2 separate regions of the Homo sapiens genome follow, and region 2 is linked to region 1. Evidence: fine-mapped expression QTL. A gene starts in region 1. The other region holds a variant in brackets. All regions are shown on one strand. Distances are between the middles of the regions. Region 1 holds the start of RFT1 (RFT1 glycolipid translocator homolog). Region 2 overlaps RFT1 (RFT1 glycolipid translocator homolog).

What was found.
Region 2: its variant is fine-mapped to the expression of RFT1 in whole blood (INTERVAL, PIP 0.90).

Annotation. Positions count from the first base shown.
Region 1 is chr3:53,127,537-53,132,914 of GRCh38, reverse strand. RFT1 (RFT1 glycolipid translocator homolog) reads left to right here and starts at 2,480. Exons shown (of 13, transcript NM_052859.4): 1 at 2,480-2,577. The coding sequence starts at 2,515. RefSeq lists enhancers at 2,075-2,124, 2,135-2,334, 2,375-2,424, 2,435-2,624.
Region 2 is chr3:53,102,196-53,107,573 of GRCh38, reverse strand. It overlaps RFT1 (RFT1 glycolipid translocator homolog), which reads left to right. Exons shown (of 13, transcript NM_052859.4): 8 at 705-755; 9 at 1,771-1,901; 10 at 3,477-3,621. Among named protein-coding and RNA genes, the nearest start is that of RFT1, 26 kb to the left of the region's middle. RefSeq lists enhancers at 4,258-4,759, 4,759-4,808. The variant A/G (reference allele first, on the strand shown) is at 3,336.

The DNA.
Region 1 (5,378 bases):
GGTCAAGGTCTTTAGCATCTCAGCCATTATGCCAAATACCTGGACCCTCCAGCACTTTCTCTATTCTCCAAGTACACTCCTCCCCAGGTGGGTGCCCAACTCACTCATCCTAAAACAGCACCCCTCTCTCTCTTCCAAAGCCTCTAGGATCTTACCTGGTTTCATTCTTTCGTAGCACTTAGCCCTATGTGAAATTTTATTTGTTTGTTAGAGTTTTTTTCAGTTTCCCTTTCACTAGAATTTAAGCTCTCTGAGGGCCAGACTTGCCTGAAACAATCCTTATGACTATTTTTACAGGACAGATAATATCCCTATTTAGTAGCTGAGCATACTGAGGTCACCCAGTCAGTGAGTGGCAGAATGAGGATTCAAGGTCAGTTCTCTCTGACAGACAAAAGCTCACATTCTTGGGCAGGGTGCAGTGCGGTGGCTCATGCCTGTAATCTCGGCACTTTGAGAAGCTGAGGTGGGCGGATCACTTGAGTCCAGGAGTTGGAGACCAGCCTGAGCAACGTGGGAAAAACCCATCTCTACAAAAATCACAGAAAAAATCAGCCAGGTCTGGTGCTGCACGCCTGTAGTCCCAGCTAATCGGAAGGCTGAGGTGGGAGGATTACCTGAGGCCAGGAGGTGGAAGCGGCAGTGAACCAAGACTGTACCACTGCACCCTAGCCTGGGAGACAGAGCGAGACCCTGTCTCAAAAAAAAAAAAGAAAAGAAAAGAAAAGAAAAGAAAAGAAAAAGAAAAGCTCACATTCTGGGCCTCCACACTAAGACAGAGCTCATTTCACCTGGGAAGATGGGAGTGATAGGCTTTGAGTTCCACAGTCTGTTTCCAGCAGCAGTAGCAGCAGTCATGTGTCAGGAGACATTTATAGGAGCCCTAAGAATGTTCTGTACCGCTACTTCAGGAAGCAAAACCAGGCAGGCTGCACTTCTGCCCTCTTGGAGCTCATGGGCTGATTATATAGAGACACATATTCTAGTCTTTCTGCTATAATGCAGATTGCATTAGGAACTATAAAGGGGTACAGAGTATTTTAGGGGTACTGTCTTGATTTGCTTGGGCTGCTGTAACAAAATACCATAGACTGGGTAAGTCAAAAACAGAAATTTCTCTCACAGCTCTGGAGGCTGGAAGCCCAAGATCAAGGTGCTAGCCAGTTTGGTTCCTGTTAAGTGTATGTTGGGCGCCTTACATTTTACAAAGCCTTCTTCGTGGTTGCAGACAGCTACATTCTTGCTGTATCCTCAAATAGTAAACACAGAGATCATTTTTCTGACATCTCTTTTTATAAGGACATGAATCCCATTATGACGGCTCCACTTTCAGGACCTAATTACTTCCCAAAGGCCTTACCTCCTAATACTATCACACTGGGGATTAGGCTTCAACATATGAATTTTGAGGGTACACAAACATTTAGTCCACAGCAGGTACCAGCTGTGGTTGGCCAGGAAAGTCAGGACAGTGTGGTCTAGGAGGGCAAGGGGTGCTGTCAGGGAAGACACTTTGGACAAAGAGGGTGGAGGAGCAAAGGCCAGTGAGTCACCGCCTGTTTGAGGACCAGTAAGGACTCGGAATGGCTATGGCCTAGATAGTGTTGGGAAGGGCAATGATCGTGTGAAAGGTAGTAGAAGATAGGTTGGGGCCAAATCATGTGAGGACTGAAAGAGATTGGGGAAAGACTGGGCTTCCTACAGCCTGCTTGGTAGATAATAAGAACACTGACAGAACAGCAGCTGATTGTGTATGTTGGGCGCTTTACATTTTTTTACAAAGCACTTCCAGTCCTTCTTCCACTCTGCCCTCACAATTTCTAGCATACAGGCAAGAGTGATAAGTTTAGGATCAGGAGCCTGGTATCCACTTAGTCAGGAAACAAGTTGTGTAGATTCGAACAAGTCACTTCCCATCTCCAAGGCTTTACTCATCTCTAACCACAGGGGCCAATTCTCAGAGCTTTCGGAAGGATTTCACAAAACCATACACATAACAGTGCTATATCTAACTTCTGGTCCTCAGTTCTTTCTCTGTTAAATGAGGACAATTCCTGTCCAGCCTAATTCAGAGGGTCTGTGGCTGTGATTCTGTAAGCAAAGGTCAATGGTGAGAATCTTCTTAACGGGCCAGTGAGAAGTTTGTTCCCCTTTTGGCAGATGAGGCCAGGAAAGTTAGTGCTTCTTGGTTGGTGGCTGAAAGCCTCAGAGAAGGAACTTTGGATTCTTTAACGGTATCTCTTAGTACTCGCCACACTATTTCGTTTATACGGGGAAGAGAGGGACAGACAGCGCACAAGCGACAGACAGCGCAAAACCTACCGAAATAGAAAGAGCCAGGCGCCATAACAGACGGCCCGAGACAGGCCCACTTAAAGGACCAGAACTTCTCGTGCCCCGCCCCCCTCTCTCAAGGCCATCAATCAGACAGCGAGGCGCGCCGTGACGCCATCTTATCGCGACTAAACGGAGTGGCGGCGGCATTTCCTGGTGTCTGAGCCTGGCGCGGAGGCTATGGGCAGCCAGGAGGTGCTGGGCCACGCGGCCCGGCTGGCCTCCTCCGGTCTCCTCCTGCAGGTACTCTCTGCCCTTCAGGTTCCAGCTTGTACTGCAGCCGGGATTCGCGGGATGGCAGCCCTTGGGCCCTTGAGAGCCTGCCCCAGGGCCGACCCAGTCCCGAGGTGGACCCCGCAATGGAGGGGGTGGGGGGGTCGACCGGAGACGGTGGCATTGATGAGGGGGGACCCTGGCCCGGAGATAGGAGCCTGCCTTTAGAGTCTAGGCCGGGTGACTGCAGACAAGCCGCTTTCCTTCTGAGCATTCTATTTCCCATATGGCAGTAGGAGTGAATTAGATCAGGTGGCGGGGGTGAGGGACTGGTATTTCGTGCTCGAGAATCTGATATTTTTCAGGCAAGGGGTTCATTTCCTTCATCAAACACCTTCCTCAAACTTTGAGTCCCACTGAGTTCCGAGAGTCCATATGGCATAGCTAAGAAGAGAAATCTGGAGTTAGGCTTGGATTGCTCCGTGACCCAGGACAAGTGACTTCACCTGCAGAGCCTGAGTTCCTCACTAGTAAAATGGGGGTAATAATATGTCGTACTTAGCTCATAAGCAGGGATTGATTGGGATCATTCAAATAAACGTACTTAACACAGTACCCGGCTCTTAGTATGCATTTAATACATGTTGGCTGCATCTTCTGTTTATGTGATCTTGGACAAGTCACTTCCCTTCTTGGCCCTAATTTTTGTCATCTGTCAGGTATGATACAGGCCAGTTAGTCCAAATGGTATCTGAAGATTCTTTCAACCCCAGGAGCTGAACCTCTTAAGTCAAGTGGCTCAGTATCTCTCTGTCTCACTCTTGAGCCAATCAACCCTACTTCACACAAGTCCCGAATCTACCCTACCCCTTATCTTAGAGAGGCACATGGAGGGCAGAAGAAAGAACCAAGCAGAATGGGGCTTGAGTTTGGGCCTTGTCACTTGCTAGATGCCTGCCTTCGGGATAAATCCGATGACTTCTGTATCAGTTTCTTCATCTTAAATGAGAATCATAGTGCAACCTCACAGGGTCATTAGGAAGATTAGATGAAATCATGCCTCTTAAGTGCCTGGCACACTACAAGTACTTAATAAATGTAGCTATTTTTATTAGGGTAATAAGTATTTTTAAAATAGTCAATGTAGGAATGAAATGAGATAACCTATGGAAAGCATGTTGAAGAGTGCCTTGCACGTGATATGTGCTTAGTAAATGTTAGCCATTCTAAGTTTACCTAGGGATTTTTTTTTTCTGTTTCACTACATAAATAACTGAGTTTATTGTTTTATCCACAATGTTGGTTTTTTTTCAGCCTTTGATAATATCTTACTACTCAGATAGGCTTCATAAAACGAAAACAAGTTATAACGGAAAACACACTGGACTACGAGTCAGGTGGCTTACCTGTAAGGTCAAGCTGGGTCATTTACTTGCCGTGTGACAGTGAGGAAATCACTTAACCCTCAGTCTTGCTTCCTGTGCATTTACCTCGTTGTTTTTAGTGTCAAATAATTTAACAGATGTGAGAGAGCCTTTTTGTTAAAACTGTAAAGTTGGCTGGACGCGGTGGCTCATGCCTGTCATCCCAGCACTTTGGGAGGCCAAGGCAGGAGGATTGCTTGAGCTCAGGAGTTGAAGACCAGCCTGGGCAACATGGTGAAACCTTGTCTTTACAAAAAATACAAAAATTAGATGGGCGTGGTGGCATGCACCTGTAGTCCCAGCTACTCAGGAGGCTGAGGTGGGATGATCTCGAGTCTGTGAGGTTGAGGCCTCAGTGAGCTGTGATTATGCCACTGCACTCCAGCCTGAGCAACAGAGTGAGACCCTGTCTTAAAACAAAAGCTGTAAAGTTCTTTGCAGAAGTAAATGAAGGCTGTGTTGCTAATAAGGACTGCAGTGTGTGGCAAATACTGGGTGGCGTAAGCAACCTCAGTTTCATTAGCTGCAACCTTTATTCAAACCAATTAGGAGACATGGATATGGCCTGGAACATTAAGTTTCTTAGACAGTGGTAACTTTGAGGTTAACATAAGTATGTACACATGGTGTTTTGTTTTTTGTTTTCGAGATGGAGTCTCACTCTGTTGCTCAGGCTGGAGTGCAGTGGCACTATCTCGGCTCACTGCAACATCCGCCTCCCGGGCCCAAGAGATTCTCAGGCCTCAGCCTCCCAAGTAGCTGGGATTACAGGTACCTGCCACCACACCTGGCTAATTTTTGTATTTTTAGTAGAGACAGGGTTTCACCATGTTGGACAGGCTGGTCTCGAACTTCTGACCTCAAGTGATCCACCTGCCTCAGCCTCCCGAAGTGCTGGCATTACAGGTGTGAGCTACCGCGCTCGGATTTTTTTTTTAATAACCATATTTTTATATGGTTTCTTGAGTGTTTTCATTCTTGTATGCTTTCTCGAATTACACTGTAGACACTTCAGGTAGCTTTGTGGTTACATTTTATTCTGCAAGAATTTGAGAGCTTGTTCTATCTTAATTCTAAGCCACCTATGCTGAAAGTATTAATGCCTTTCATTTGTATGCACTTAAAAAATGCTTTCACTTCTACAGTCTCATTTCTTTTAAAAATATTTCTTGTAGAGATGAGGTCTCACTGTGTTGCCCAGGCTGGTCTCAAATTCCTGGCTTCAAGTGATCCTCCTACCTTTCAGCCTCCCAAAGTGTTGGGATTTTCTTTTCTTTTTTTTTTTTTTTTTAAGATGGAGTCTAGCTCTGTCGCCCAGGCTTCACGCCATTCTCCTGCCTCAGCCTCCCGAGTAGCTGGGACTTACAGGCACCTGCCACCACACCCAGCTAATTTTTTGTATTTTTA
Region 2 (5,378 bases), 25 kb after region 1:
GCTTGTGCATATAATCATGGACTCTTCACAGATAATTTACGCTCAGATTATCTGACCTCCCCTTAAGACTTGGGACTATCATCTTCATTATTAACATTTAATAATCTCCACATACTTTTTTAAAAACTTATTTTTAGGGCTGGGCGTGGTGGCTTACGCCTGTAATCCCAGCACTTTGGGAGGCTGAGGTGGGCAGATCACGAGGTCAGGAGATCGAGACCATCCTGGCTAACACAGTGAAACCCCATCTCTACTAAAAATACAAAAAAAATTAGCCGGGTGCGGTGGCGGGCGCCTGTAGTCCCAGCTGCTCGGGAGACTGAGGCAGGAGAATGGCATGAACCCAGAAGGCAGAGCTTGCAGGGAGCCGAAATCGTGCCACTGTACTCCAGCCTGGGTGACAGAGCGAGACTCCGTCTCAAAAAAAAAAAAAAAAACCTTTTTAGACTTGTTTTATTTTTATTTTTTTTTATTTGTAATTTAACTGGCTTGGAGATTTGCTGTCAATAAAGTCCTCAGCACTTTCCAAATTGTTACTCTGAGATTATTTGAAATCAACATTAGGACAAGGACATGTCTTTAACTGATTACCTAGTATTTCTCCTTTATTTGTCAGCTGGAAAAGTTGATAGCTGGTGAGAGAAAGGAAACAATAAAGTAATGTGCATTTGACATTGCTAATTATTTTGCTTTTTTGTTTATAGGCGAGCGATATGTGATGACATTTTTGAATGTATTGAACTTTGGTGATCAGGGTAAGATGAAATTCTGTAGTGTTTTAATTAAAGGTGAACACTATTAATAGATACTTCCTAATATTTTTCTCTGATATATTTAATGAAAGATGAACCTGAAGATTAAAGAAAATCCTGAAGATTGTAAATTGTAGGTCTTTGTACTGACTATGCCCTCCAACATGACTTTGGTGTCAGGTATTCTGGTGAGACCCCGGCCCTCTATTTTGCCTCCTGAGAGCTCTGGTGTTCATTTTGGGAGGTGGGAGGTGCCAAGAGAGGAGAAAAGGGAGCTCACTGTCACAGCCACAAAAATCTGCCCCATGTTTGTGTGGCTAGATAGTCTTTCAGTATTTTCATTTTTATCTTTTAATGTAATCCCAAAGTAACTGAAATCAAATAGAAAAACATCAACTTTGCATTAATGACCTGTATAAGAAAGTACTGTTGATGGAAGCATTCTGTATCTTGACTGTATCATCGTTGGTATCCTGGTTGTGATATTGTACTATAGTTTTACAAAATGTTACCACTGGGTAAAGGGTATATATGGGATCCCTCTATTACTTCCTATTTTTTTGTCTTTTTTATTTATTTTTTATTTTTTGAGACAGGGTCTCATTCTATTGCCCAGGCTGGAGTGCAGTGGTACCATCACAGCTCACTGCAGCCTCAACCTCCTGGGCTTGGGTGATCCTCCCACCTCAGCCTCCCAAATAACTGGGACTACAAATGCACACCACCACGCCTGGCTAAATTTTTCCATTTTTGTAGAGACAGGGTTTTTCCGTGTTTCCCAGGCTCATCTCAAACTCCCTGGCTCAAGCAGTCCACCCACCCTGGCCTCCCAAAGTGCTGGGATTATAGGCATGAGCCACCGTGCCTGGCCACTATTACTTCTTATAACTCTGTGTGAATCTATAATTATCTCAAGATAAACAAACTTTAATGAAAATATTAAATAATTTTAATAGTGCTATAAAAATTAAAATAGAAAAACCAACATGATTGTTGTTTCTTCTTTTTTGTTTTGTAGGTGTGTATGATATAGTGAATAATCTTGGCTCCCTTGTGGCCAGATTAATTTTCCAGCCAATAGAGGAAAGTTTTTATATATTTTTTGCTAAGGTGCTGGAGAGGGGAAAGGATGCCACACTTCAGAAGCAGGTAATGTTGGTTCTTATGTCATCTCTCAAGTGAATTCTCCCTTTAATTGCAAGACAGACAGGAGTGTGAAGCAGTCTGTTTCTCTTCTGTTTGATCAGGAATTTTCTTATAGATTTCATTCTTCTATTACATTCTTCATGATAGTGGGACCCAGGGCTCACCTCTTCTTTCGTGGCCTTCTTGCTTTGCTCTTGGCTGTCCCTTCCTTCTCACACCTTTGTTATTCGTTGTGACCTTACTCTTTTTGGGGGGGGGGGCGGGGATAGAGTCTTGCTCTGACGCCCAGCCTGGAGTGCAGTGGCATGACCTCGGCTCACTGCAACCTCCACCTCCCAGGTTCAAACGATTCTCCTGCCTCAGCCTCCTGAGTAGCTGGGACTACAGGCATGCGCCACCACACCCAGCTAATTTATGTATTTTTAGTAGAGATGGGGTTTTGCCATGTTGGCCAGGCTGCTCTTGAACTCCTGACTTCAGGCAGTCTGCCCACCTCAGCCTCCCAAAGTGCTAGGATTACAGGTGTGAGCCCCCATACCTGGCCATGTGACCTTACTCTTGATCCAGCCCTCTCAGGACTCTAAAGCTGTCCCCATTGCCCTGCAGATGCCCAGCCATGGGCTAGTCTTAGGCGTAAGAATGCTTCCCTTATCCTCAGAGTCTCAAGAGCCAAAGGATGCAGAAGTTGGAGCCAGGCTAATCAAGGGCATAGGGAGGAGAGGAAGTGGTTGTTGGCTTTCGCTCACCACACCAATTATTTAAGCTTCTTACAACTGGGACATGCCCAGAGCTACACTCTGACTGTAAGATTCTGTATACTCGGGTTGGTAAATACAGAAGAAGAGATTTTAATCTAGGAGTATTTTGTTGTAGGAGCTTCACTTTTTCCAAAACCACTGAAAATGTCTGACTTTTCTTAGAATAGCAAGCTAGTTCAGCCTCTTGCTTGTCTTAGAAGAAATTTAGTAAAATACAGTTTATGCACAATATCTCAAAATGAGCTAATCTGGTACTCAGTCTGATTTAGGAATATTTTCCTAAGAGTACCTTCACAGTATCATCATAATTTTGGAATGTTTAGCAGGAGAAGCACAGAGCTGGCTAGTGTATATGAAAACTTGCTGCACATTTAAGAATAAATATTAGTGGTCTGGTGCAGTGGCTCATGCCTGTAAGCCTCACGCTTTGGGAGGCCAAGGCAGGAGGATTGCTTGAGGCCAGGAGTTTGAGATTAGCCTGGTCAACATAGTGAGACTCCCTTCTCTATTTCTATTTAAAAAAAAAAAAAAGAACAAATATCAGAGGGGAAAGTGAGTGTTTCCTAAGCAATATTTGAAACAATTTATCCCAAGTGAATTGAAAACTAACCCTCCCCCTTACGACCTAAGGAGACACACACTTTTTCCTTCATTTGCTAACTGACGTGAAAACAAACAC[A/G]CTACAAAAAAATAGTGATATCCATCACGCTGTTGGAAGAGTGAACTGTAAAACAGTGAAGGGAGAAGGCCAGACGTGAAGGATGAAGGTTTTCTTCAGCTCATGATTCATCCAACTTCCTTCCCTCTTCCCTGGCCCCAGGAGGACGTTGCTGTGGCTGCTGCAGTCTTGGAGTCCCTGCTCAAGCTGGCCCTGCTGGCCGGCCTGACCATCACTGTTTTTGGCTTTGCCTATTCTCAGCTGGCTCTGGATATCTACGGAGGGACCATGCTTAGCTCAGGATCCGGTACGCACAAGAGTTTTTCTGGATTTTTTCTGATTTCCCAACATAAATAGAAGAGTCACGAAATTCAAGAACTTGTGCACACACAGTTGTTATCTGTGTCAGTGTAGGGAAAACTGTCTGGTGGCAGGGGCTGTGGGACTGTTCCCCTCGTTCAACTCCAGACACACACTCAAGGTATAGGCAGGGGCGTTGGCGCCAGGACAATCAGCTTCCCCAGCCTCACTTGGAGAAGTTATTAGGACTTCTCCTTGCTGTTGGCTTTCCTCTCGGGCCTAGAATGTGTTTTGCCAAGCGCTTCCCTGTGCTCCCTCTGGGGTGAGGGAGGAAGGCAGAGGGCAGACGGTAATGAGTCTCCACTTGGTACTAAACACATCTGAAGATAGTAAATGCCACATAAATCTCCCAGCCTAGTGCATAAAAGCCTCTGAAGGATAACCCAAAGCCATTTGCAGAGAATAAAATTGATCTCTGCAAATAAAATGGTATATTTAATCCAGTGACTCTCAGTTTTTGAAGAAGAAAAGTATTGAATGTGTCTAATTTTGAAACACCAGGCCGCTGAGGATCTCACAGCACTTGTTAGGTCTTGGGGACTTCATCAATTTCAAAATGTGCTGGGCTGTAAGCTGGCAGTCCATTTGCAGTGCTTCATCTTGGGTTTAGCAAAGATGTTTTTAATTTCTCAGGTCGCTGGACAAGAACGCTGAGGACTTCTTTCTGCTGCCCCATCTCAATATAAAGGGCTTTGTCAAATGCCATTTTACAAGTTCACTAGCATGTTTTAGTCTCCACTACAATGGGGCCCAAACTTTTGGTGTTAGGGGAGGAAGGGCCAGGTTTCTATACCAGAGCAAAGGTCATTAAGTTTGGAGAAACACCTGCTGTGAAACCAGTGAAGTGGTTTGCAGCTCCCTGGGGCTTGTGCTGTGAGAAGTGTATTTCCATCTGGCAGCTGTGGGGAGGCCTCATGAGGAAGGCATTAGTAAGTTTATGGGCAGAGATTGGGAACTCGACTATTCTGTAGCAGCTCTTCCCCTTTAGAAAGCAATCACCAAGGAGCAGCCTCTAATGTCACACAATCACAGGGCGTTGCCTCAAGGAGGGGGCTGTCCCATCATTATCATGACTCAGCCCATCATCTTAGTTTTGAAAGTGGAACTCGCAACACTGCTGTCCCCAGTTGTGTACTTGTCTTTGTCTTCACCCTGGAAGTGGACTACTTACCTGTGAGCTGTACTGGCCATCTCCAGATGTGGGACTCGGACACAGCACGGACAGGCTTTTGTGTAGGGGTGTGGCTTCTCTTCCGTTGTTTGGGATTAGCCCTGCATTTAATTAGGGTCTTTGTAAGTGTTCTAGAGGCTTTTCTTAGAAATCCTTCTCACACCTAGCTTTGCTTTGCTTTTTCTTTTCTTTTCTTTTTTCTTGGTAACTCACAGAACAACACCTAGCTTTTCTATCCTTAAGCAAAACCCACACATTCACAGAATTTCCCCAAGATTTCTTACATTTCTCTCTTAGGTGCTTCTCTCTTGTCCCTCTGCCTTTTACTTTTTTCCTTCTCTATCCCCTTGTCTTAATGAACTAGGGCTGCCATGACAAAGTACCACAGACTGCGTGGCTTTAAACAACAGAACATATTGTCCGTCAGTTCTGGAGGCCAGAAGTGCACAATGAAGCTATGGCCAGGGCCGTGTTCTCTCTGAAGGCTCGAGGAGAGGCCCCTTCCTACCTCTTCTAGTTGCTAATGGTTGCTG